2 linked regions of the Homo sapiens genome follow. The protein of the gene in region 1 interacts with the protein of each later gene in a pairwise test. Each region holds a gene or a part of one and is shown on either strand. Other genes may lie near its edges.

Region 1 (13,322 bases):
ACATAAATAAACAGGCCCTTTTATTTAGAGAAAGTTATTATTATTAACACTCCTATCACTGTCACAACAAAGATTTCATCACTCTTTCCATGAATAAGTAGATGATTTTTGTCTTTTTCCTTAGCCATTAAAATTTCTATAGAGCTAACTATTGGCAGAGGTTTAAATGCTCTTGGCAATGATATAAAGTGGGGCCAAACTCATGAAGTCAGGGTAGTTTGCTTTTTCTTTCTGAGCAGAAAGGATCTATAATTTGGTTTTCTTTTTGCTTATATTTGTTTATTTTCTGATAGTTGAGTGCTCAGTTAGTTATGAAAATAATAAATATTTTCTAATATCTCACGCTATAATTATATATTATTAATATTAGATGAATATTGAATTTATATCACTTTTTCAATAAAAATATAAAAGACATATTACAAATTCCTGCTGTTCAATTATGATCTACCATTAGTTGCAAAAAAAAGTAAAAAAGAGCATCCACATGGTAAATATTCCCCAAACCAGACTGAATTAACTTAGAATGTTTTATTAGAATCACACAAGATATTTTTTTCTTTTTCATAATTTCTTCTTACCCCCCTCACAATCACACTGATAAATATGTTGATACTACCATACACAGTGCAGCAAGGACTGTGATACCAGTGCCAACACTTTTGAACTAAAAAGAAAATGACTGGTGTTCAAGTGTTCTGCGTTCAGCATTCAATGTTACACCAACTTCTTAAAATTTTTTCTTATAAAGAGTTTTATTATAATAAACTTTTATTTTTACAACAGAGATTTTATAATGTACTTAATTGCATAGTGCACTATAGCTGGAGTCTATTTTCTTACATTAATAAACAAATTTATTTATAATTTTATTTATAATTTTAAATTAAGTTTATAAATGTAGGTTGTGGTCATTTTCTGGATGGTGGCAGCAGCAGCAAGCCCTACTTTTCCAGTTGGAAAATGCGTAAGCTTTCTGAGAAGAGCATGAGACTATTTTTTTAAAAAATCAGAATATTTACAATGGAGATTAGAATAATAAGTAGTAAACCAAGTATCATTGTGACTTAAGAGTTCATGTAGCCAATCAAAATGAATTAGCTTTGAAACCAAACTCTACACTTGAACTTTGGGTACTTGAGATTATTTAATCACCCCTGGCCTCAGTCTTCTTACTTAAATAATGAGACCAGTTATGAGTTTTATAGAAGTAATGATTCTAATAATAAAAGCCTCAAATTTAGCAATAATTTAGAATGTAGCACCTCATTTCTACCACAATCCATGCTTTGGGATAAATTGGGAAAAGACGACCTCTCCTGGTGAGAGATGGCAGAAAGGTCCCTCTTATAGACTGTTCAACTAGAAAAAGTTGATTTTGCCTCTAGGTAGCTTGAGCTACAGGCACTGGGCTTGCCAAGCTGAGCTCCTTCTCCTGTCTCTTTGGCTTGTACCTCGACACAGTGCACAATCTGCATAACTGTGTTTGAACCTTTTTAATATTCCTAGCAATCCTATGACATAGGTGCTCTTATCTGTTTTCAAAATGAGGCAAAGAGGGCAGTTCACACAGCTCACAAGTGCTGAAGCTGGGTTGTGAAACCAGGCCATCTGGCTCTACACTCCATGCTTTTACCAGGTTTCTATGCTGTCTCCATATGTCTCAAACCTAATATAAAGGTGAAATATTTCATGAACAAAAGGGATTGATGAACACAAACACTGTGCATGTTATCTATGTCAGAATCATAAGCATTAATCTGTTATTGATTATTGGGTGGCTAATATAAGCAAGGCTTGTGCATTGAGAGCTTGTTTCTAAACAGAATTAGATTTTCTGTTACAAATATTTAAATAAGAATTAATGTTGCCTCTGTCTCAGATTTTCAAACCATATATGCCTTTAATAAATTTTTATCTAGTCTTTTTATTTTCCAAATAAAACAAACTAGATCCAAATTGAATGCATTCCACATTACAAAGAGTATAACTTTAGCCAAGTTGTCATCCTGTGTTATATCATGAGGAATATGTTAAAATAGTAAAAGAAACACTCTCATCCTAGAGTCGCACACATCCATCTACTTGTATATGAATTCCTGACACAGAAAGTTGTTGTAAATAGTAAAAATTGTTTGTGAGTGCATCTTCTGAATTTTAACCTTGGACTCCTTTATATATATATATATTATTATATATGTATTTTATTATATATATATTATTATATATATATATTTTATTATATATATATTATATATAGTAAATTATATATAATATATATAATATTATATATATTAATATTATGTATAATATATATTATATATAAATACATATATGTATAATATATATTTACATATATGTATATATTACATATATATGTATACATAATATATATGTATACATATATATGTATTATACATATATATGTATTATATTATAGGTACAATACATATATATACACATATACAATGTATATATACATACATATACAATATACATACATATATAATATACATACATATATACACACATATACATATATACACACATATATTATATATAACATATATACATATATATTATACATATATATTATATACATATATATGTATATATTATATACATATATATGTATATAATATATACATATATGTATTATACATATATATGTATATAATATATACATATATGTATTATATATATTATATATGTATTATACATATATTTTATATATATATATAAAATACATTACCTTTTATAAAGGTAATGTAACAGATACTGCCATCTTTGGGAAAGAGTTATAAAACAAAACCATAAAATGATGACAAACAGCAGTTGAAGAATAATGGCTATGATAAATGGTTAGTTCATTAAATGACTGGTAATAAGATTAATTTGTTCCTTTCATGCCCGAGAGATACTTAAAGTAATTGCATCTCTGAAAACTGCACTGTCATCATTTTATGCTTTTGATGATGTCATAGATTAGTTCCATAGGCTGAGAAAGGCTCAGCAGTTTTTCTTGTATCTCCCTTGGTATATATTATATCATATTGTATTAATGTATGTGCTACTGTTCACCACCCATGAATTTGCAATATTCTATGGTATCCACAGGATAAGAAGAGAGGCCTCTAAATCACCCAGTCTCCTAAATAAAACATGTGCCAGTTTTAATAAAGTTAAACTGATATATATTAAAGTGTCCTGGAGAAATCTGGAAGCACCATGAAATATTCCTAATGTCATTTTGCAGCAAAAATAGGTTGGGGATCACTGCTATGCACACTAGAAAGAAAAAAGGAAAAAAAAAAAAGAAACACATTACTTCAAAACACTTCAAATGTTTAAAAGTATCACTTGCTCTTCAAACATATCCTCCCAACTTAGAGACCTGAATTTGGAATCCTTCATATTTATCCTTATGCCTACAAGTAAAATCCTTTTACCTTTGTCCTAAAGAAGACATCACTACTCACCAGTCACTTCACAAAATTAAATGATTGCAGCTCCCATAGATATTCTCTACACATCTGTGTGTAGTAAGAAATCAGTACAGGTCTAAGCTCCTAAAGGTAGTTTCCAAATTAGCATCATAAATTCAATAAATAGGCTTTGATTACTATCATCATATCACATCTTGTTTTGCATATTCGTACATCAAAATAATCATGACCACTGACCTAGAAAAAATACTTTCTTATTACTACTAGATGCCACTAAATCTCATGGGTCAGATTACGATGACGAAGTTGTTTGAAATGTCATTTCTTGCTAAAATATATCCACTTTATTTTTAGGTAATGCTCTAAACTTTAGAAAAGGTGATGTATTTAAAAGTATTGGAAAGTACCTTATTGAATATTTTAAGGTATTAAATATAATTTATGTGGAGAATTATTTTGTGAGTGTCTATTTTTCTGCGGTCAGTGATTATTTGAGTATCCTACATAGAAATTATAAATTGTTGTACTGAAATTTAACAAATAGAAATATATTCCATACGTTGCAAGTATGTTCCTAATAACAGCCCCAAAGAGGCTCTTACTCTTCAATAAAGATTTGGTGAATGGTCCCAAGTGGCACGAAAAATTGATGCACCAATTCAAAACTTACATTGACCAGGTAGACAATAGATCCATTAGAAACTATTGCTACAAAAATGTCAGGCTTCAGGCTGCTCTGTTCTCTGGCCATTGTGGTCAAAATATATCTTTTTAAGAAATTAGTCTTCAAATAATAAAAGTCACAAATCAATTTATAGATGGTTAAATTTCAATGTGAATTTTATGACCAAAGACAATTGAATTATTCATAAGGAAAACATAACTAATTATTTTAATATCAAATAAACATCATCATTTATGCTAAATCAAATAGATCATGTTCAGTTAATTAGAAATTTTCCAGATGTCACCTACAAGATGCCTATAAATGCTTAATAAGAAAACCTAACAAAAGATTTGGAAAAAATTATGTACTCATAGAACGCAAAATACACCTCTTCAACAATTTTTTAAGCTCTGTTTTTACTTTAGATATTATTTTTCCTCCCTTTAAAATGTTGAGGCCTAGGAACAAGAGCATATCTAAAGGATATTATTTAGGTCAATGAGTAAAAAACATCTTATGTTCAAAGCATGGTCTCTGCTTTTCATTCAGTTGCATGAATAATTCTGATAAATACAAAGACAGATAAGTAATTCACAAAATCAGATGAGTCTATATAATGAATTTTTTCTTTGCAGCTAACTTAGGGAGGAAAAGGATCTAATGTCACAGATTCTGAAAATTCTGAAAAAAGTGTAGAGTGATCGGTAACTACACATGTAAGAACTATATTCTGAAGCTGTAGAACATCACAAATTGCTAAGGGGAAGATCAGTGACAATTAAGCTTAATATGCCAATGTCTAAAGGTCTGGCTTCACAGCTGAATTACTTGCTGTCATCTGTCATCTATTTCTACATCTAGTGACACCTGTTGTATAGGTGTACAAAAGTGAAAAGGGCTATTTGTGCTTTTTATGTTTTAAAAAAACTTTTCACCCTCAAAACACATATATCCAACAAATACTTATTGCAATGTTTCAATGAGCATAGTAAGAGATTTCAATAAAGTGTAGCTATGATCAGCCTTTATGTAAGGCCCTAAGCACATTCACCCTAGGTTGTCGAGAATCTGTATCCTTTTGAAGAGACCGTCCCAAAAAGTAAGGGAGAGTAATTGCAATATAAATCGCTCAACGACAGGACAGTGAGAGTCAAAAAAAGAAAAATCAAAGACAACCTGGGAAGCTTGCCAATTTTGATCGATTTCCCATGCACTGACTCGACCGACTTAATTGTGCACCTACTGTGTGCCGAACCTGCAGTCATTACCAAGTATACCTCGGCCCAACTCCAGCTGACTTCATTTTCTGGGAAGTCCCCAACTTGGAACGCAGTGTGCAAAGGAAAGGCATCTACACGCAATGACCACACTTCAGTTCCTTGCCAGTAGTCCTGCTGAGAACAAAGACCGAATGCCCAGGCATCCGGAGGCGACCCACAGCGAACTGATCTGGTCACAGAAAGCATCCGAGTGAACACGGTGCTGGGACCAAAGTCCAGTCAGAGCGACAGAGGGTGGCATTTCTGCGGTGGCTCTTCTGTCTCTGGGTTCCCTCTGCCTCCGCCCTACCCCACCCCTTTGGCAGGTGCTGAGCCCGGCCGTGTGGTCAACTCTCTCACAAAGAAAGTGGAAATCACTCCTGAAAAAGGCTATGCCGCTCGTAATGAAGCAGAGGCTCGCTCCGCAGCTACGTAAGCAAGCGCTTCACAAAAATTTAAACTTTTCTGCGTGTGTGTTAGAGAAGAGAGGGAGGAGAACAGCACAATCAATTTCTCCCCGCCTCCTCCCGGGTCCTTACACCATGCAGGTTTCCAACGCCCCGGAGAGCCTCCGCCCGAGAACAGGCTGCCCGCCGCGCCCCGTGGTCCCCTCTCCCCGCTCGTTCTTCGGGGAGACGGCCCCTGACTCACCGCTGACCACGCGGCGGCAGAAGGCTCCGTGGCCGCAGAGCAGCGCGGCGCCCAGCAGCAGCGAGACCACGCGGCTCATCGCGGCGCGGTGGCAGCAGCAGGTGTTGCGTGGAGCGAGGGCGGCCTCTGCCCAGGGCGCAGCCCGCGACTCTGACTCTGCAGCCTCCCTGCCTCCCTGCCGGGCCCTACTCCCGCCGCCCGAGCCCAGCTGCCCGACCCCCTGCGCGCATCGCCTTCGGCCGGGACCTGCCGCCTGCCGCGCCTGTGCCGCGCGTGGATGTGCGGGGCTGGAGTTCAAGACTTCGAGGGTGCGCGTTTGGGGGACTGAAGTTAGGGGGTCCCGTGTATGTCCTAGAGGCGAAGCAGAAGCCCCGGCTTGGACCACACCGTTGCGCTTTGCTTCTCTTCCCCGGCCTCTGACAAGTGAGAGGCTGAGCCGGTGCGCCCTGGTCCTGGATCACAGCAGCAGCAGCCGCTCTGCGCTCAGGCACCGTCTTATATACCCACGTCCCGAGGTTCCGGCCCCCTCCCTAGTAATAATTTTTAACTACTTCGTCTCTCCAGCCATGTGGAGCATCCCAGCACCTCCCCTAAACACGGGAGCCCCTTTGAAAACAGTCCAGTCAGCAGCCCGCCTCCTCTGGTCCCCTCCTCCCTGTCCCCTCTTTCCATTCGCTAGCGGACTGGATACTCTTTGTGTAAAATGTGACAGCTTTGCTATTAAACTCTGGCAAAAAGTTGGATCCGTTTAGTTTTCTCAAAGATAAATGTCTACGGGGTTGCCAAGTTGTGTGGCCTTTCTCTTTCTGTGCTAAATTGCTTAATCATATGTATTGCTAGATGCAGGGCACTAGCCACTATTTAAGATGGATTGGTGAAGTGAGAGCCAAAACCTGCTCAGTGAATTATATAATGTGGCAGGTTTGTCCCCACCTAGGTTCTGCAAATAGATTATCTCCAAGCAGGTTGTTTGACGAAAACTGCCACAAGAGCAAATTGAAAGGAATATTTGAAGCATGGTTTTCGAAACTGATTTCACTCTCAGTGTTTGCAACTCCAGAGAAAACCGTCAACACAAAGTAGGCATTCTGAATTCTTGGGAATTTCCTGGAGGTAAAATGAAATGTATGTATTTCTTTGCAATCATCTATCAGTGATCTACGATATACATTAGAAGTAAAGCTCATTGGAAAACCTGCATTTTTCATAACCTGACCTGCTCTCTTTATTAAAACAGTCTACCCAAGGACTGTGATACCTAGTTTCCAGGAATACTGGAGAGAAGTTCTTAAGAATTTAATGTATATCAAGTCCATAGTATGAACTCTGAAAATGTTCTCATAATGAGCTTCAGTAGAATTGGTATTTTCTCATTATGTTGCTTTAAATGCATGAGAATTTGTTAAATAACATTACTTGTCTTATAGGAAGTACACTTTCCTCTAACTTCCTCCTGTCTTTGGTTTCATAAGCCACGGGTACACTGTAAGCATCTGTTGGACTGTTTTATTGGAAAAAGGAAGTAAATACTGATACAATAAGGACAAATCTTCCAGAATCAGAAATTTTAGCACTTGGAAAGACCTTAAAGATTATTAAATGCACCCTACTCGTGACAGTAGAATTCTAGCTCCGTCTGGAGTCCCAGCTATTCCAGAGGCTGAGGTAGGAGTTTGACGCTGCAGTGAGCTACAATCCAGCCACTGCATTCCAGTTTTGGGGACATGCAAAATCCTGTCTCAAAAAAAAAAAAAATAGAATTCTAAAATAACTACAATAATGTCTATTCTATCACTTCCTTTTTCTTATATTCCCTTTAAAAACACTAATTCATTGCAGAATCATGGGCAGTTAATAAATTTGCACCTTGTAGAGGCTATGGATTCTGTGACTTTCACACTAGCTAATTATTCACGAGAAACAGACACTGCTGGGATTCTGAATGAAAAATGGAAAACTGATACGCCTCCAGGCAACAGAGCTATAGCTCAGCCCCGGAAACCATGTCAAAGAGCATCACTGGGCATAGCCATGGTAGGAGAGCTGTCCTCCAGGGGCTCAGAGTCCAGTGTAGAGAAAGAAATAAAATAATAACTCTGTGTATAAATGCTGTAATGGAAGGATGAATCAAGTGTCATGGCTAGCATAGATAAGAAATTCATTTGGAGGCATATTTGCAGGAATTCTTTAGCAGCAGTCAAGGTTGATGGTGGTGATACCCATGGCTTCTCCAAATACCTGTAGAACTAGGGTTCTGAAGGGGATCTCCTTTCCCCTTTCATGCCACCCTACTCTCAGTTACTCATGCCCAGAGCTACTGTAAACAGGTCCTTCTTTGGGAAAGAATACCAGTAAATTACAACATAAGCACTAGATAGATATTCCTATATATCAGTAGGCCCAAATGTCTCTCATGCCTACAAAGCTAGCAAGAATGAAGGCATTTTTTGTCAGGAAGGATCTTCATGGTATTAGTAATTCAGGAAGCCCAAACTATAATAATAACTGTATCCTCAATATGTTTGCACAGACTTCCTAACATACAGTTTCTTATCTTTAGGCTAGAATTATATCAGTTTAAGTTGGCCACATTCATTAACTAAGGCTGTTCAGCAGTTATTCTGGATGTTGTTTGACTTATCAGGAAAATAAATTCTTACAGGTTCTTTTTAGATATGATGTTTTTTAAGGTGACTGGCTGACAAGAACAGCTTTTTTTGTTTGTGTCTCCGTCACTTCAAAACATCTGGATGGGTCATCACTGAGTTCAGAGATCACAGTTTGAGTTGTCTTAAATATAAAATCTGAGTGTTACTAGGCATGCTCTTTGGAGAGCCCTGATGGAAGCTTCTCTTGGCTTCCTTTTTTTTCCCATACAATATGGAAAAAAGTAGGGGCTATGAATTAAAATTTTTCAACAAAATTGTATTTTGGAAAAATGTTACAAGGTTATTGGGAGTTGGGGGAAAGCAACAAATATTCAATAATTTTATTAACAAAGGATTTTAATTTTTCCCTCTTGTGGATATGCATAAGGTGTCATAGAAGACACATGGTTTTCTGATGACACATTTTAGTTCCAAATTAACTAAACAAAATTAGAAGTTTAAGAATTGTTTGCAAATTGATCCAGAAATTAAGGGCTCTTTCTAGGGCAAGCGAGAAGAGACTTTAGGGTTATGTGAGGAATTGTGTATGTCTGGAGCTGGGCTCCAGGTCAGCTCATACCAAACAAGACCATATGACTGGCAGTCAGGAGAGAGGTCCCCCACAAGTTAAGGGTCTTTGTCCATTAAAAAAAAAAAAGACTCAAATGAGAACTTCAAACTGATTAGGCTAAGGAGCTCAGCATCTATTCAACACCTAAAATGCATCACTTTCTTCAAGCCCCCAAATAGAAGGATGATCTCAGTAAAAGTGGCCACAAAGGAATTTCAGGAATAAGTCGATCGCTGAATCTCCAGAGGCTCTGAAACATCAATAGAGAAACACTATTTGGAATCCAACGTTTTCAAAAGTGATATCAGGACTCTTAAGGGTATACTATGGAATCTATATAATATCCCAAATATATCACGAACTCCTTCACTCTCACCATTCACTTTCAAATGTCTGCAATTCCCAGTGAGCATCTGCTTCATGCGCCCATCAATACGTCTCAAGGAAGGACAGCCTAAATTCCAGCCACTGATCTGCACTCAGTGGCTCTTCACATGGGCAACTCCATACAGTGGCTTCAGCCTAAGTCACAGCAGGCTTCATTCATTTGCGCTCCAGATCGAACAGTGACAAATAGGATCTTCAAAGGAGATTTGTTACAATGTTTAAAATTATTACAACTTTACATTAATACATTTGAGATGTTTTCAGAATCCAACATTAACTAACCAATATTATTTATTCTATTATACTTTATCTAATAACAGTTAATGATTCTCCTGAGCACTATCAATAGTATTGCCAGGATATAGAAAAATAAATATTTGAAAGTTTAAAAGTAAAATCATTACTATATAACCACTTCAGCAATAGGCAAAAAGTTTTTTTTTTTTTATCTGAGTAATGCTTGGTTATCACTTCCAGTAAGACAGCATTGAATCCAAGGTTTTCCCTCCCAATATTTTAGAGATGACACCTTGGCATCTGTGTGGGTGTGTAACTGGCTTAAATGTAAGGATAAGCAGTTGGCCAAATTCACCTGAGATTTACTTGCTCTTTTCAAAACATGTCTATGCTGTAGAATACATGACCTACCTCATTCAGGAGCCAGTTCCACCTTCCTCATAATCCCAGAAGTCAGTTTTTGCAGGGCTGTCTAGGGGAATTTCATTGTTCATAACGATATCAGAAATATAATGAAGAATTATACACATTAATACACATGATTTTCTATAACTTGAAGTTAAAATTTCATAACTGTTCAGTCTGTTGCATGCTCTGATCATTCAGGTGATCAGTTAAAAATATTTATAGAACTCCATTACTAGTAATATATCCTATCAGATCTAAAGAATCATATAAATATATGTGCATGTTTAACTATCAACTCAATTAAAATTTCTTTTTAATGCTTCTTTATTAATTTAAAGTAATGAAATCTGTTTCTATTGCTGGTAATCTGGTATAAACCAATACTTTTTATTCTAATCACAGCTTAATTACTAAATCTTGCCTTAATATATGTTAATACAACCAAACAAAATTGAGATAATCAAACAAAAAATGTGTAAGCTAAAGTCATCTTTGCCTCAAGGGTCTGATCTGAGTTATTAGATACATAATTGACTAACTCCTTATTGGGGGTGATATTGTACTACGGTAAGATTATTTGGCTAGCAGAAACATTAATCTAAATTTTTCATTAATCTGATCTTGGTCAACTTTCCTCTTCTGTTTGGTTTTCACTTTATAAATATAAAAAGAATGAATTGGAGAAGTTCTGTGTTTCCTGACTGAATGAGATTCTACTGCAGAAATACTGTTATTTCATAAACTTTCCTAATGTTCATCTTTATTCTACCCAGCCAGAATGTCATATGTTATTTGCATATATGCACTAATTTTCCAAATATATATAGATGCTATGCTTCTAATGAAATGTAAATTTAATTGTAAAATGTCACTTAATTTATAAATCTTTTCCCATATATTCTGATCAATATTTACCAAAATAACAATTGCTATTATGCGGGGTCTGAAAAACAATACGTATGTTAAAAATAGGGCTTCATACTCAAAGAAGTTGGAAATCGCTATGCTAGATATTTCTAGAGTCCTTTTCAGCTTTACAATTTATTTCACTAAAGAAAAAAAAGCTTAACATCTTCCATCTCTTTTTATTTTCTTCCCTTCCTCCCTCCCTCTTTCTTTCTCTTCTATTTTTTCCTATAAAAATGACAATGGTTTGATTTATAATAAATGGCTATATCCTCATTTAATTTCAAAATTGTTCAGAAAATGGGAGTTCTGAAAATTTTCTATGGTCCTTTGACTAATAAATCAACATATCACAGATGCCACAAAAAATGAAAAATCCAAATAAAGCAAAATAAAATTGAGGGCCAAGTTGAGTAAAAGATAATCCAACTAAGAGGCCATAAAACTGTAAATGAATTTTTGATAAAGCAAGATATTTTCTATAAAAGTGTTTTATTTTACTAAAAGGGAAAGGGTGTAAAGAAAAGGAATAGCTAAAGACCTAAAAAAATGTAAAATATTCCTTTGTGGCATTCATAAATATTAAATGTTTCTCCAAATATATCAAATGACTAGGAAACAATAGTGCCAAAGCCAGCCATAATAGCAATAAACTGTATTATGTGAGCTGACATATAAAGTTAGAGGGAATTTAACGGAAAAAAACCAAAGGTATTAAGAAAAAAATCAATTTAAATATCCTTCTGGAGGTACATCTGTCACTCTGCTGCTCTTTCATACATCGTTTCTAAGCGTAAGTAGCTCACATGCCAAATACATGTGTATAATGCAGGACAGCAATATAGAAATTTTGGAAATAATAAGGAATACTCTGTCAGATAAGCCATAGATATCAGCACCCGTAAACCTTTCTTTATCCTCTAGGTTACCTTTTAAAAAGGAAAAGTTATTATTTATCTGCAATAAGGTATACATATTCTACATTCCAAAGAAACTCCTATAAAATAAACATGAACAGAAAGGGAAAAACAACAAAAGTAAGTGTATTTCTATTGCTTGATCCTTTACAGCAGAAAAATTTAACGGAGCATGTTACAGTAAGAAATTTGTGCTATAATATTTCTCTCCAAAGAATGGACACAAAAATTCATAAGGTAGTCTTAATTTTCTAGAGTGTTAAAGAACATCAGAGAGCTACAAAATTATCATGAATGTCTTAGTCATGTACTTCCTGTCTTCTCTAATAGGTAAGAGTCATTTAATCTGGCACTAAAAAATCAGAAGTAATGTTTTTGATGTTTAAATATTTATGATGTTGAATAATACAACAATTACAAAAATATGTATATAAAGTTCTTCATACAAGACTAGGATAATCATAGTGGACTCAGGCCCGTCTGTGCTGAGACTCATTTACTTGTGACTGTAAAGACTTCTGGAAAAAATATTACTTACTGGGAATAAAATGGAGCATAAAGCTAGACCTCACAATCTTAATACTCTAATCAATTCCACCACCCATCCACAGCAACCCCTCCCTGAACTTTCACATAACCACATTGGTATGGTTTGGCTCTGTGTCCCCACCCAAATCTCATCTTGAATTGTACTCCCATAATTCCCGCATGTTGTGGGAGGGACCCACTGGGAGATAACTTGAATCATGGGAGCACTTTCCCCATATTGTCCTCAAGGTAGTGAATGAGTCTCACAAGATCTGATGGTTTTATCTGGGGTTTCCTGTTTTGCATCTTTCTCATTTTCTCTTGCCACCACCATGTAAGAAGTGCCTTTTGCCTCCCACCATGATTCTGAGGCATCCCCAGCCTTGTGAAACTGTAAGTCCAATGAAACCTCTTTCTCTTCCCAGTCTCGGGTATGTCTTTATCAGCAGCATGAAAATGGACTAATATGCGCATCAGTTTACATGGCTTATTCTAACATGTTAAGGACCACTAGAACTCTGGTGTCTCTTCCCAGACTCTATACTGGTTTTCTCTAACCCAAGTTAATAGTTCAGAGTGCTGAGAAGCTTTAGGACAATCATAAAGGAAGTGAAGATACTGTCTTTCTGTCCTTGCCTCCATCTACAGAAAGGCTTTCCCTGACTAATGATCTAAGTCCACCTCTGCTTATCCTCCC
Region 2 (12,672 bases), on another chromosome or scaffold:
TTTGATCCTGTCATTATGATGATAGCTGGTGATTTTGCTCGTTAGTTGATGCAGTTTCTTCCTAGTCTCGATGGTCTTTACATTTTGGCATGATTTTGCAGCGGCTGGTACCCGTTGTTCCTTTCCATGTTTAGCGCTTCCTTCAGGAGCTCTTTTAGGGCAGGCCTGGTGGTGACAAAATTGGTCAGCATTTGCTTGTCTGTAAAGGATTTTATTTCTCCTTCACTTATGAAGCTTAGTTTGGCTGGATATGAAATTCTGGGTTGAAAATTCTTTTCTTTAAGAATGTTGAATATTGGCCCCCACTCTCTTCTGGCTTGTAGGGTTTCTGCCGAGAGATCCGCTGTTAGTCTGATGGGCTTCCCTTTGAGGGTAACCCGACCTTTCTCTCTGGCTGCCCTTAACATTTTTTCCTTCATTTCAACTTTGGTGAATCTGACAATTATGTGTCTTGGAGTTTTTCTTCTTGGGGAGTATCTTTGTGGCGTTCTCTGTATTTCCTGAATCTGAACGTTGGCCTGCCTTGCTAGATTGGGGAAGTTCTCCTGGATAATATCCTGCAGAGTGTTTTCCAACTTGGTTCCATTCTCCCCATCACTTTCAGGTACACCAATCAGACGTAGATTTGGTCTTTTCACATAATCCCATATTTCTTGGAGGCTTTGCTCATTTCTTTTTATTCTTTTTTCTCTAAACTTCCCTTCTCGCTTCATTTCATTCATTTCATCTTCCATTGCTGATACCCTTTCTTCCAGTTGATCGCATCGGCTCCTGAGGCTTCTGCATTCTTCACGTAGTTCTCGAGCCTTGGTTTTCAGCTCCATCAGCTCCTTTAAGCATTTCTCTGTATTGGTTATTCTAGTTATACATTCTTCTAAATTTTTTTCAAAGTTTTCAACTTCTTTGCCTTTGGTTTGAATGTCCTTCCGTAGCTCAGAGTAATTTGATCGTCTGAAGCCTTCTTCTCTCAGCTCGTCAAAGTCATTCTCCATCCAGCTTTGTTCTGTTGCTGGTGAGGAACTGCGTTCCTTTGGAGGAGGAGAGACGCTCTGCATTTTAGAGTTTCCAGTTTTTCTGTTCTGTTTTTTCCCCATCTTTGTGATTTTATCTACTTTTGGTCTTTGATGATGGTGATGTACAGATGGGTTTTCGGTGTGGATGTCCTTTCTGTTTGTTAGTTTTCCTTCTAACAGACAGGACCCTCAGCTGCAGGTCTGTTGGAATACCCTGCTGTGTGAGATGTCAGTGTGCCCCTGCTGGGGGGTGCCTCCCAGTTAGGCTGCTTGGGGGTCAGGGACCCACTTGAGGAGGCAGTCTGCCAGTTCTCAGATCTCCAGCTGCGTGCAGGGAGAACCACTGCTCTCTTCAAAGCTATCAGGGACATTTAAGTCTGTGGAGGTTACTGCTGTCTTTTTGTTTGTCTGTGCCCTGCCCCCAGAGGTGGAGCCTACAGAGGCAGGCAGGCCTCCTTGAGCTGTGGTGGGCTCCAGCCAGTTCGAGCTTCCCGGCTGCTTTGTCTACCTAAGCAAGCCTGGGCAATGGCGGGCGCCCCTCCCCCAGCCTGGCTGCCGCCTTGCAGTTTGATCTCAGACTGCTGTGCTAGCAATCAGCGAGACTCCGTGGGCATAGGACCCTCCGAGCCAGGTGTGGGATATAGTCTCGTGGTGCGCCGTTTCTTAAGCCGGTCTGAAAAGCGCAGTATTAGGGTGGGAGTGACCCGATTTTCCAGGTGCGTCCGTCACCCCTTTCTTTGACTCGGAAAGGGAACTCCCTGACCCCTTGCGCTTCCCGAGTGAGGCAATGCCTCGCCCTGCTTCGGCTCGCGCACGGTGCGCGCACCCGCTGGCCTGCGCCCACTGTCTGGCACTCCCTAGTGAGATGAACCCGGTACCTCAGATGGAAATGCAGAAATCACCCGTCTTCTGCGTCGCTCACGCTGGGAGCTGTAGACCGGAGCTGTTCCTATTCGGCCATCTTGGCTCCTCCCCCCGAATTCAAAGTTTTAACACTGGGATGTTTGGGAGCATTGAGCTAAGTAGGGGAGTGGAATATGATATGCTTGTGACATTGTAATATGCTATAGATTAAATGAGTTTTTATTTCACTTAGAGGTAAATAGTACTAGTTTAACTATGTAAATTAAGCTTTAGTACTGTTGCTCTTGCATGATTTATTTTCATTAAAATAACTGTAAGAGATGAAAAAGTATTTTCTTTTAAAATAAGATTTCAAGTATAAGAGATAATTTCTCAACTTTCATATTATTGGAACAATTAATTTGATGTAGGTTTTATTCATACTTTGTTTCTTCAGAGATGTCTGTAGTGGGAGTATTTTCCCAACGCTTTACTATATAAAAGTCCAGCATGTTGATGTTGCTCCTGACCATTCAACTAAAGTAATGGAATTCAAACAGAGAATCTTAAAAAAGAAGAAAAAAAAGAGAAAAAAAAGAAATAAAAATATCAATATTGGTAAAAAAAAAAAAAAATCTGTAATCTGAAAAAAAAAAGAAAATTGAATATTGTCTACTATTATCTTTCACTTTTATTTAGAATCTTTCATTTTTTGATTTTAGACTTTTCATATGTCAGCAAGCATTTAGTGACTACCTAGTATGTGCTAGGGTCCTACTCTTCATGTACTAAAATTCAATCTGAATATAGGAGTTAGGCTAATCTTACTATGTCCATACTTTTAATGAGGTTATGGGATAGTATAAACACAGATGATGAAAATTAAAAGAATTTTGTAAAAGAAAAATTCCATTCCAATATATTTAAAAGATACATTTTTGTATAATAAGGCAATTGTCTTTTCTAGGAAGATGACTCTTCCATAGTTTTCGCGGACCTAATTAGGACAGTTTTTAATGAAAACAAAAGCCTTTTCTCTTATGCAAACTTTGTGTTTTTGGCACAGAGCTTAATCGTGTGCTGTTTCACTCCAGATTAGAGGAAATTGCTAGTTGGTGGTAGTTCAGTGTTTTATGAAGAACTCCTTTATTTTCATTAAAAATAGTAGTTGTCTTATAACATTTTTCACTACTGAAACTATTCTGATACCTCCCAAACCCATATGACATCCTTCTCTAACCTGTCCCATACACACTCTTAAATGAATCTACTGATGTTTTTTAAAATTAAATGATTTAGGGAAAGTGTATGTGGAGGGAAATGCCATCTGTTTTTCGGATGAGTTTATAGGGTTGATTTCAGTTTACTAATCAATTGAAACCAGGGTCAGCATTATTTCTTCTTTAGAGCCTTTAGAAAATGAAATTTCTAGAAATCAATTTGTTTAAATAAAATTGTTTTAGTATAATAATTTGGTTGGGCTCTAGGGTTTTGTCATTGGATTTTACTTATATTCTCACAGTATACCCAGAATCCAAATACATTGTTTTCTGTCTCTTACTTTGACTATAACAATAGTGTCTTATTTTTTTAGTCTTTTAAATTAGAAACACACAAAATAAGACATATGTAGAATAGAACAGCAGCATTTATGGCAAACACATTTATACCAAAGGCTTAGAAGAAAAATCTCTTAGAGTTTTATGTTGAAGGCTTCCTATAAAATCTTCTAAACAACTGTTGGTAAATTTCAGCATTACCCACTTGCCTTCATTAAATGGATTTTAATTTCTTTTCTTTAGAAAGGGAGTTCTGGGAATTATGTAACAAGTGTAATTTGATGAGACCAAAGCGTTCCCATCACTGTAGCCGCTGCGGCCACTGTGTGAGGAGAATGGATCATCACTGTCCATGGTAAGAATAATTCACTTCTAGCAAAGAAAAGAGGGGTGGGTAATAAAATGTAAATCTTACAACTTGGCAGCTTTAAACAACAGTTATGTTAAAGTTATATAGTTTTACAATATCTTAATAAGGATATCTTTATTTAGATTATATGGTTCTGTCAACTCCCAAAGTCATTTTTCCACAGAAATCCTATCTTTTCTAACAGGGAGAGATTTGAGCCAAAAAAGTAAGAATTAACTGCAGCCTGATATACAAAAGGATTAAGGTGGTTGTATTAAATGAGGCAATGTATATAAAACATTTACTACAATATCTGACAAGTAGGATGTACTTAAATGGTAGCTATTTCTAATTGTAATAAACCATATGCATCCGAATGTTTATATCCCCTTTTCATTTGTTTAATTAATAACATTTCAGACACCCTGATAACCTCTTCCTTACCCCTTAAAGCTTTTTAAGCATTATGTATTGGATATAGCTACTACCATTATGTACTTGTTGGAAGTATGTGAGTGATAATTAGCTGATTCTGCAGAACTGCTAACAGTTTTGGTCAATAGGGGGCTCTCTTGTAATATTTAAAGAAAATGTTCAGTTGAGAAATATAATCTTCGAAAACAAATGCTGCGTGAATTCTGTATTGTATCTCATTTTAAAGCTGTCACAAAAATCTGTGAACAAGATATTGTATTTAATTCTGTTTTCTTAGCATTGGCTCTCTGTATAAATATTTAAACTGGTATAGTGTAGAATTTGACAAATGTATCTGTATACATATATGTAGTATTTATGTTTGTATACACATACATGCATATATGCAAATTTACATAATGAGCCTCTTAATTTATAATTGCTTTTATTTAAAATTGATGCAAGTGGAGTTTAGCTTTTTCTAATGTTAGTCTATTTAGAGTTTTCTTTATTTTTGATAACTTATTTTGATAGCACAGTTATTCAGCAAACTTCTGGTGGAAATTTGTTTTTTTGCATAGACTGTTTAAAAAGAAGATAATTTCCTGAAATAGGAAAAAGTAAGAGCATTTTCGATAAAAGCATTTTGTTACTACATAAAAATTTTAAAAATTTCTAAATCTGTCAACAAGATAGAGTAGTGTATGACATATAGTTGATATTCAAAACTGTGCCTTGAATTTAAACGTAAATAATTATTTGGGAATTACTTGGGAATAAAGATTAATTCCCAAGTAATTTTCTTAAGCTCAGTGATCTGTTTGCTCTCACAATAGTAATAGATTTTTAGAAAGCTACGTGAAACATGTATTCAGATAATTGCTGATCATACAGAAAAGCTCAGTTTTTAAGCGCTTCTTATTGTAGAGTTTCTTATTCACTAAAATACAAATGTTCATGATGGAAGTGGATATTGATGCTTTTTTTTTCAAACGAATGCAGTAGTAAGAAAGAACTAGGAAAGACTCACTTATTGGTGACCAAATAAGGTGCTATTTAACCTTAATTCTAACGTTGGGGTGATTTCTCTTTCTGGGCCTCTTGCTTCCATAGTTTTAGTCAACTTTTCAGAAGTTGGTAGCAGTGAGGGGGAAGTACAAAGGATTGGAGGATCAGAAAGGAGAGTAGACAAGGGACCTAAAGAGATTCAGGAATTTTTATCATTGAATTTCCTGATAGAGCACTGCTGAAATGTTCAGAGAGCAGGGGAAATGTACAGTGTAAATTGGAAGCAAGGAAAATTTTTGATGTTTTCAGAAATTGCACTACTTAACTGCCTAAGACATTTTTAGGTTTGGAGGTCAATTCTCACGTTGCCTCAAGGTTTTCTGTATTTGTGGCTCTGATCATTCTTTTTTTTTTTTTTTTTTTTTTGAGATGGAGTCTTACTCTGTTGCCCAGGCTGGAGTGCAGTGGCATGATCTCAACCTCTGCCTCACTGCAACCTCTGCCTCCTGGCCTCAAGTGATTCTCCTGCCTCAGCCTCCCGAGTAGCTGGGATTACAAGTGCATGCCACCATGCTTGGCTAATTTTTGTATTTTTAGCAGAGACGGGTTGTCACCATGTTGGCCAGGCTGGTCTCAAACTCCCAACCTCAGGTGATCTGCTCCCCTCGGCCTCCCAAAGTTCTGGGATTACAGGCTTGAGTCACCGCGCCTGGCCTGATCATTCTTTCTAAGTAGTGCAGATGTTACAAAAAGAACTCATATAGATTGAATACCTTAGTGCTTCTTAAAGCTGTTCTGGTTAAGAAGAATGCTGTGATCATAGACATTGTTTCTCAAACTTCCTGGGGACAGGAAAGATGGAACAATGATAAGTCATCTTTCAATCGGCAGCTGTTGAAGAGCACTTTTGAGTGTATATTAATACATAAGCACACTTCTCTTATAATCCTGCTTGCAAATAACAAAGCACAGTAGATTTTCTTGTTTACAAAACATGCACTCTTAAATCTTAAGAAATGCCTCTCTAAGGTTTTTCAGTTCAGGTCTGTATTTGACTTTAAAAAATGGTTTAATGACAAAGTTAAAAAGAGCGATTTAAGTTAGGACCGAAACCTGTTACATCGTTTCTTTTTCAGTGACAGTATAATACTATTTTGAAATGAAAACATTTGTGCAAAGTCATTTGTAGTCTTGAACTAGGGTTTTTTGCTGGAATTTTAGGATACTTTGACAATTTGGATACAATAAATTTGGAACAATAAAATATTCAGCTTAAATTAGCCTTGAAAATTTTTTATTGTAACATTAATCCTCTTTCCTAGTTAGGGTTCACTGTTGTATTGGTGGAAGTATAGCTGTGTGTATTTATAAATAGTTTTGAATACATTTTTATTTTCAGCAACCAGGGGTAGATTTTTAAAATGAAAAGTGAATGCTTAGCAGTTATGTCAGAGTGGTATGTTTCAGCTGGTTTACTTCAGGGCATTCAGATTGCTTTTCACAGCTAGAATGCCCTAAAGGAAGAGCAAAATACAGGGAAGCAGGGTTCTTGCTCTCTTGGCCCCTATGTCTTCTAACTCTACATCCTCTGGCCAGAGGCTTAGCTCCTTTGTTCCCTGTTTCCATATCAGTGACACAGGAGACTACCGTCTGCTCTTCCTGTCTCGCTGAGTTGTTATGAGTTGAAGGGGGATCACATATGTGGACTTCCTTTGTGAAGTGCTTTACAAATATAAGATGGTATATTTATAGTTTTCTCTGTATAGTTTGTTTTTACCTTCAAGTGGCCATAGCATATCTCCATGAAGTTAAGCATATGTGATATTATTTGTTTTTAATTTAGTCTTATTGATCCTGAGGTGAACTTCTTGAAATTTAAAATATTGTTTCTTTTTCATTTTTTTTCTTTAGGATTAACAATTGTGTTGGTGAAGATAATCATTGGCTCTTTCTGCAGTTGTGTTTCTACACTGAACTTCTTACTTGCTACGCACTGATGTTTTCTTTCTGCCACTATTACTATTTTCTTCCACTAAAAAAGCGTAATTTGGTAAGAAATGTTTATATTGGGAGGCCGAGGCGGGCGGATCACGAGGTCAGGAGATCGAGACCATCCTGGCTAACACGGTGAAACCCCGTCTCTACTAAAAATACAAAAAATTAGCCGGGCGAGGTGGCGGGCGCCTGTAGTCCCAGCTACTCGGGAGGCTGAGGCAGGAGAATGGCGTGAACCCCAGGGGGCGGAGCCTGCAGTGAGCCGAGATTGCGCCACTGCACTCCAACCTGGGCGACAGCGAGACTCCGTCTCAAAAAAAAAAAAAAAAAAAAAAAAAAGAAATGTTTATATCCACTAACATTAGAGCAGTTGTAGCATACAATTATTAACATGTGGTTCCTTTAAGTACAAAAGATTGGAAACAAAACAACAAAAGATTGGAAACAAAACAACAAAAGCAAACTCCCAAATTGGTGAATTTTGAACTATATTGGGATTGAGAAAGTGGGCCCTAGTCTGACATTTCCTTTTAATGAAATTCATTTATGGTTATTTATTAGTGTTGAGCTTAGAAAGCAACACGTTGAATCTTTCAATACGTGTGTCTTGGTTTAAAAATATCTACAATAATGAAAAACAAAGACAAAATGTTCTTGTTTCTTTTCAGGAATAAAAATGCAGAATGTAATTTTTAAAGGTTCTCAAATAGTTACGTTCTTGAGAAAGAGAACTTTTTTTCTCCCTGCCTTTCATCAGTAATGATATCATGAATTTGCAGGATGCTTTAAAAAGTTATCCACTGAGAATATAATGCATGCTAGGACTATAGTTTTAGAAATGTTTCATCTTATTTATAGATAAATTTCTGATATAATTGGCATTAAAGTTAGATCATGTAAAAGAATGTACATATTCCCTGGAGTAATCTGTTTCAAATAATTGAGCCTAATAAGAAAAGCATTAAAATAAAATTCCTCAGTAAGATTAAGGTAATAATTTTTTTAAGCGACAGAGAAGTAGAGTTTAGTGGTGTTAATGAAAAACAAAGACAGGCTAAGAGGTAACGAATGCATTGTAGTATAGTGCAGTATTGGCAAACTATGGGCCTTGGTTTAAATTCAGCCCTCTGCCTGTTTTTGTTAAAAAAAAGTTTTACTGGAAAACAGCTACTTTCTTTTGTTTATATATTGTCTATGGCTGCTTTTGTTTTATAAGAGCAGAACTGAATAGTTGTGGCAGAGACTGTATGGTCTGTAAAGCCTAAAATATTAACTGTCTGGCTCTTTTACAGTAACTTTGCCAGCCTCTGGTAGTGGAAAGATCTTGTCTTTGTAAACAGACATACCTAGGATTAAAGCCTGTTTTTTCTTATTACATGCATAAGTTTTGACACATTGTTTAACCTCTCTGAATGGTAATTTTCTTCCACTGAAAATGTGAATAATAATGAGATTAAATGAAATAATATATGTAAACTTAGCTGGTATATAATAGACATTCAATTTATGTTACATTTGATTTTAGTGAAAACTCTCAGAGGGAGGAAACAATTTTTCTTTGGCCTATTAATTTTCATGAAAATTTTAGAGACCGTTTTACAGTAACCATTTATTACTGGAAGATTGATGACCAACTAAGGAAATTCCAATAATCAAATGAAGTATTAAGACGTTTGAAATTACAAACTAATTTTCTTCTCCAAATGAAAGGTAGAAACTGGAGAGAAATTAATGGCAATTAGACAGTCACCTTTTTTTAAAATGGAGAAATGGATTATGGGTTATATTTGAATATACGACATATATGTGTATATTTACATGCATAATGAATGTTGGAAAAAGATCAGCAGCATAGTAAATGTTTATTAAGAGATTAAAAATATCAGGAAGAAGAAAGTATATAAAAAGTGAGTATAAAAAGTGGGTTTTAAAAAGTCAAACCAGATTTTCCTTAGAGCCATCAATTGTAGATGCAAGCAGGTGATTTTTTTAAATAAAAATCATAATAATATGTTAGTAGCATTTTAGCAAATGAAAATCAAATCATTATGTTGGTTGTTAGAAAGCTACTTTAGGAATGAAGCAGTACATTATAAATAATTCTAGGGATCTGACAGTTACTTGTGTCTAGTAGTGCTGAGCAGAAATCGTTCTCTTAGCCTAAGTCTTATGGTTTCCTTGTTGTATCAAGCGGTGTACTTTTATAATTACCACCATATTAGCAGTAATGAAATGAAAACTCAGATTATGTTATGAAATTTCCAGGACCATTTTGCTTCCTATTGAGGAATCGAGTAATTTTTAGTTTTGTTTATGATATATTATCTCAATGTTTTAGTTTTGTTTATATGTTATCTCAATGAATGAAGTAATTCATACATATTATCAAGTTAGGTATATGGAGAGAAGAGCTTTACCACAGTATTTCCCATTGTAAGAAAAGACAGACAAATTTAAATACATAAAATTGAATGTTTATTAGCACTGTTCTAACCTACTTAAGTTTAATAGAGTAAAGCTAAATTCTAGGACCAGAATTATAACTAAACTTGAAGAAAGTATTTTATAATCTATGTAGCTCTAAATATTCCAATGATCTGAAGCAAATGAATGTTCAGTAGTTAGTCAATATACATTGAAATGAATTCCAGTCATTTCATTGATTTAGAAGTTGAGAGTTTGAAGCTACATTATAGACACATCCAAATTTCGTTATACCTTTTTGGTGGATTGATTCTTGTATCATTATAAAATATGCCTCTTTATTCTTAGTAATGATTCTTGCCTTCAAATTTTTTTTCTGTTATTAGTTTAACTATATCAGTTGTCTTTTAGTTAGTGTTTTCATGGTATATCTTTTTCTGTCTTTAATACTTTCAACCTATCTTGATTACTGTGTCTCATAATGTGCCTTACAGACAGCAGATATTTCATTAAAAAATTATCTTTTAATATGAAACATTTAGTAAATATTTACTTAGTATAACTGGTATTTTGTCATTTTCCTATTTATTATTTGACTTCATCTGTTCTGTGTTCCCATTTTTCTCCTTTTCTTTCCTGTTTTGGAATTTCTAATTTAAAAAAAATTCCAATTTTCTATTTCTAATGGCTTTTTCTTTTACTCTTTTTATAGTTTCCCCAAAAGTGAAAACATTATTCTGATTTTTTTGAAGTATAATATAAGTTAGTACTTTACCATTGTGCACCTAATGAAAGCAGTGGTCTTGGAACACCCTCTGTCATCATCATTTTTCATATTTTGGGGTAGAAGGTAGATGTAGAAAAAAATCACATGATAACAAGACATTATTGTTGTTACATATACATTATGTGTTATATTGTTATACAAGTTATATGTTACCTATAGTCAGTATTTGTTTTGAGTTATCTACATATTGGTGCTTTTTCTAGTACTCTTTATACCTGAGCCTCCTCTAGGCTTATTTTTTCTGCTTTTAGTGCAAGTCTCTTGGAACAAATTCTCTCAGTGTTGGTTCCCTGAAGATGCTTTTATTTCTCCTTCATTTTTGAAGGATTTATTGTTTGGCACAGAATTGTAGATTGGTGGTTACTTTCGTTCAGTTTTTAAAAGATGTTATTCCATTGTCTTATGGTTTCCATCATTTCTGTTGTAAAGTCAGTTGTTGGTCTTACTGTTACTCCAATGAAATATGTTTTTCTTTAGCTGTTTTTATGATTTCTTTTGGTCTTTGTATTTTAGCAATTATTCTGTGATTCTATGATGTGCTTTGGTATTGTTTTCTTTGCACTTTTTTCTGTTGGAGAGTTTATGTAACTTTGAATCTGTGGCCTGATGTCATTCTTAAGTTGTGGAAATTTCTTGGCCTTTGTCACTTCAAATATTACCTCTGCTCAATTTTTTCTCCTGCAGTTCTGGGATTCTACTTACATGTACGTGAAGTCTCATTGTGCTGCATATGTTCTGAATTTATTTCTTAACTTTCCTTTTTTATTCCCCCTCTGTGCTTCATTCTGGATATTTCCTATTAATTTATCCTCTGGTTTACTAATCACCTCTTCTGCCATGTCTAACCTACCCTTAAATCCTTCTAATGAGTTCTTAATTCAGTTATTATATTTTTCACTTTTAGAATTTCCATTTGATACTTTCTTTCATTGATAATTTCTGTGGTGAAATCATCTATTTTGTCATCTATTTTTTTAAACGTGTTAATCACAGTTTTTAATGTCTGTGTTTGATAACTTTAACTTTGAGATCCCCTTGTGGGTCCGTTTCTGTTGACTCTTTTTTTCTTCTCAATTTCCAGATATTTGGCCCTGTCTTCTGACATGTCTAAGTTAGAATACTGAGCATTTTGCATGACAAATTGTAGAAAGTGTGATTGTGTTCTTTCCTCAGATTTGATTTACTCTTTTTTTTTGATAGGATATAAGAGAAGCCTCATTTTTATCCAATCAGGGGTTTGTATAACAAGAATTTCTAATGCTAAATAACAGAACATTGGTCTTAATATAGCAGTTTTTGGAAAGATGCTATTTATTGCATTTATTGGTATTTTGTAAGGAATCTTGATTGCTGGATTTGTCTTTGTGAAAGACTAGTTTCAATTTGCCTTTATTCCAATAGTCTAGTCCTTCGGGGTCTCAGCTGAAAAACTGAGGTGTTTATTGTGGATTGTGCCCTACAGTTACTGTTTTCCTGGCCTTGGAGATTTTGCAGGATGTTCTGAGTCTCCGGTTCTACTTGACTTTTCATTCAGTACTGAATGTGAATTGACAGGTACTTTCAGATAAAAAGCAGTGCAGAATATATGGCTCACCTTAACGCCTGTCTACTTTCTCTGAGATTTTGGCCTCTTAAGTTCTGGGGAGTTTGGCTACTTGCCAGTATCTTTAAACAGCTGTGTATTTATTAATTAATTGGATTTTATCTGGCTTTTAATAGTGTTTTTGGTGTGAGTGTTGGTCTCATACGAACTGTTTCCTCATAGGTGTCAATGGCAATAGCATTTTGTTTAAAAAATTTCTTCCCAGGTGATTTTAATCATTGCTGCCTAATTGCATAACTCCAGGAGGCAACACTCACATCATAGTCTATGTAAACAGTATCCTGTGGAGTTGTGCAGTGCAAAACTTCTGTGGCCATAAGGTCTGAGAAGTGCTGTAGAGTAGGGAATGAGACTCATGGTGGACTTCATAGGTGAGATAGAGATTAACCAAATGGGGAGATGAAGGAGGTCATTGCTGGGCAAAAAAAACAACAAAACCCTTGAGGCTGTAACTGGAATAATTGGTTTTAAGGGCAAATCTTTAGTAAAATTCCAGCAGTATAACAAACTTCTCTAAAGCTAAATAATAAAATAATGTTCTTACTTCAGCAGTTCTTTTGTAAATTACATTTACTGTGTTTTTCATAAAGGTAGAAAAAAATTACCAATAATTTCAGAACCAAAGTCACCATTATTACCATTGACATTTAAAAAAATAATGTTTTATGGTGGAATAT

What was found.
Region 2: the proteins of CHODL (region 1) and ZDHHC21 interact in binary tests that used the Homo sapiens proteins (3 or more experiments, as listed by UniProt).

What each region holds. Positions count from the first base shown.
Region 1 is NC_000021.9:18,238,004-18,251,325, reverse strand, and holds the start of CHODL (chondrolectin isoform a precursor), read right to left. Parts: upstream 6,494-13,322; 5' UTR 6,103-6,493; coding exon 6,024-6,102; intron 5,452-6,023; exon of another isoform or gene 5,379-5,451; coding exon of another isoform or gene 5,357-5,378; intron 1-5,356. UniProt on the Homo sapiens protein: May play a role in the development of the nervous system such as in neurite outgrowth and elongation. May be involved in motor axon growth and guidance.
Region 2 is NC_000009.12:14,653,313-14,665,984, reverse strand, and holds part of ZDHHC21 (palmitoyltransferase ZDHHC21), read left to right. Parts: intron 1-3,658; coding exon 3,659-3,770; intron 3,771-7,097; coding exon 7,098-7,236; intron 7,237-12,672. UniProt on the Homo sapiens protein: Palmitoyltransferase that catalyzes the addition of palmitate onto various protein substrates. Palmitoylates sex steroid hormone receptors, including ESR1, PGR and AR, thereby regulating their targeting to the plasma membrane.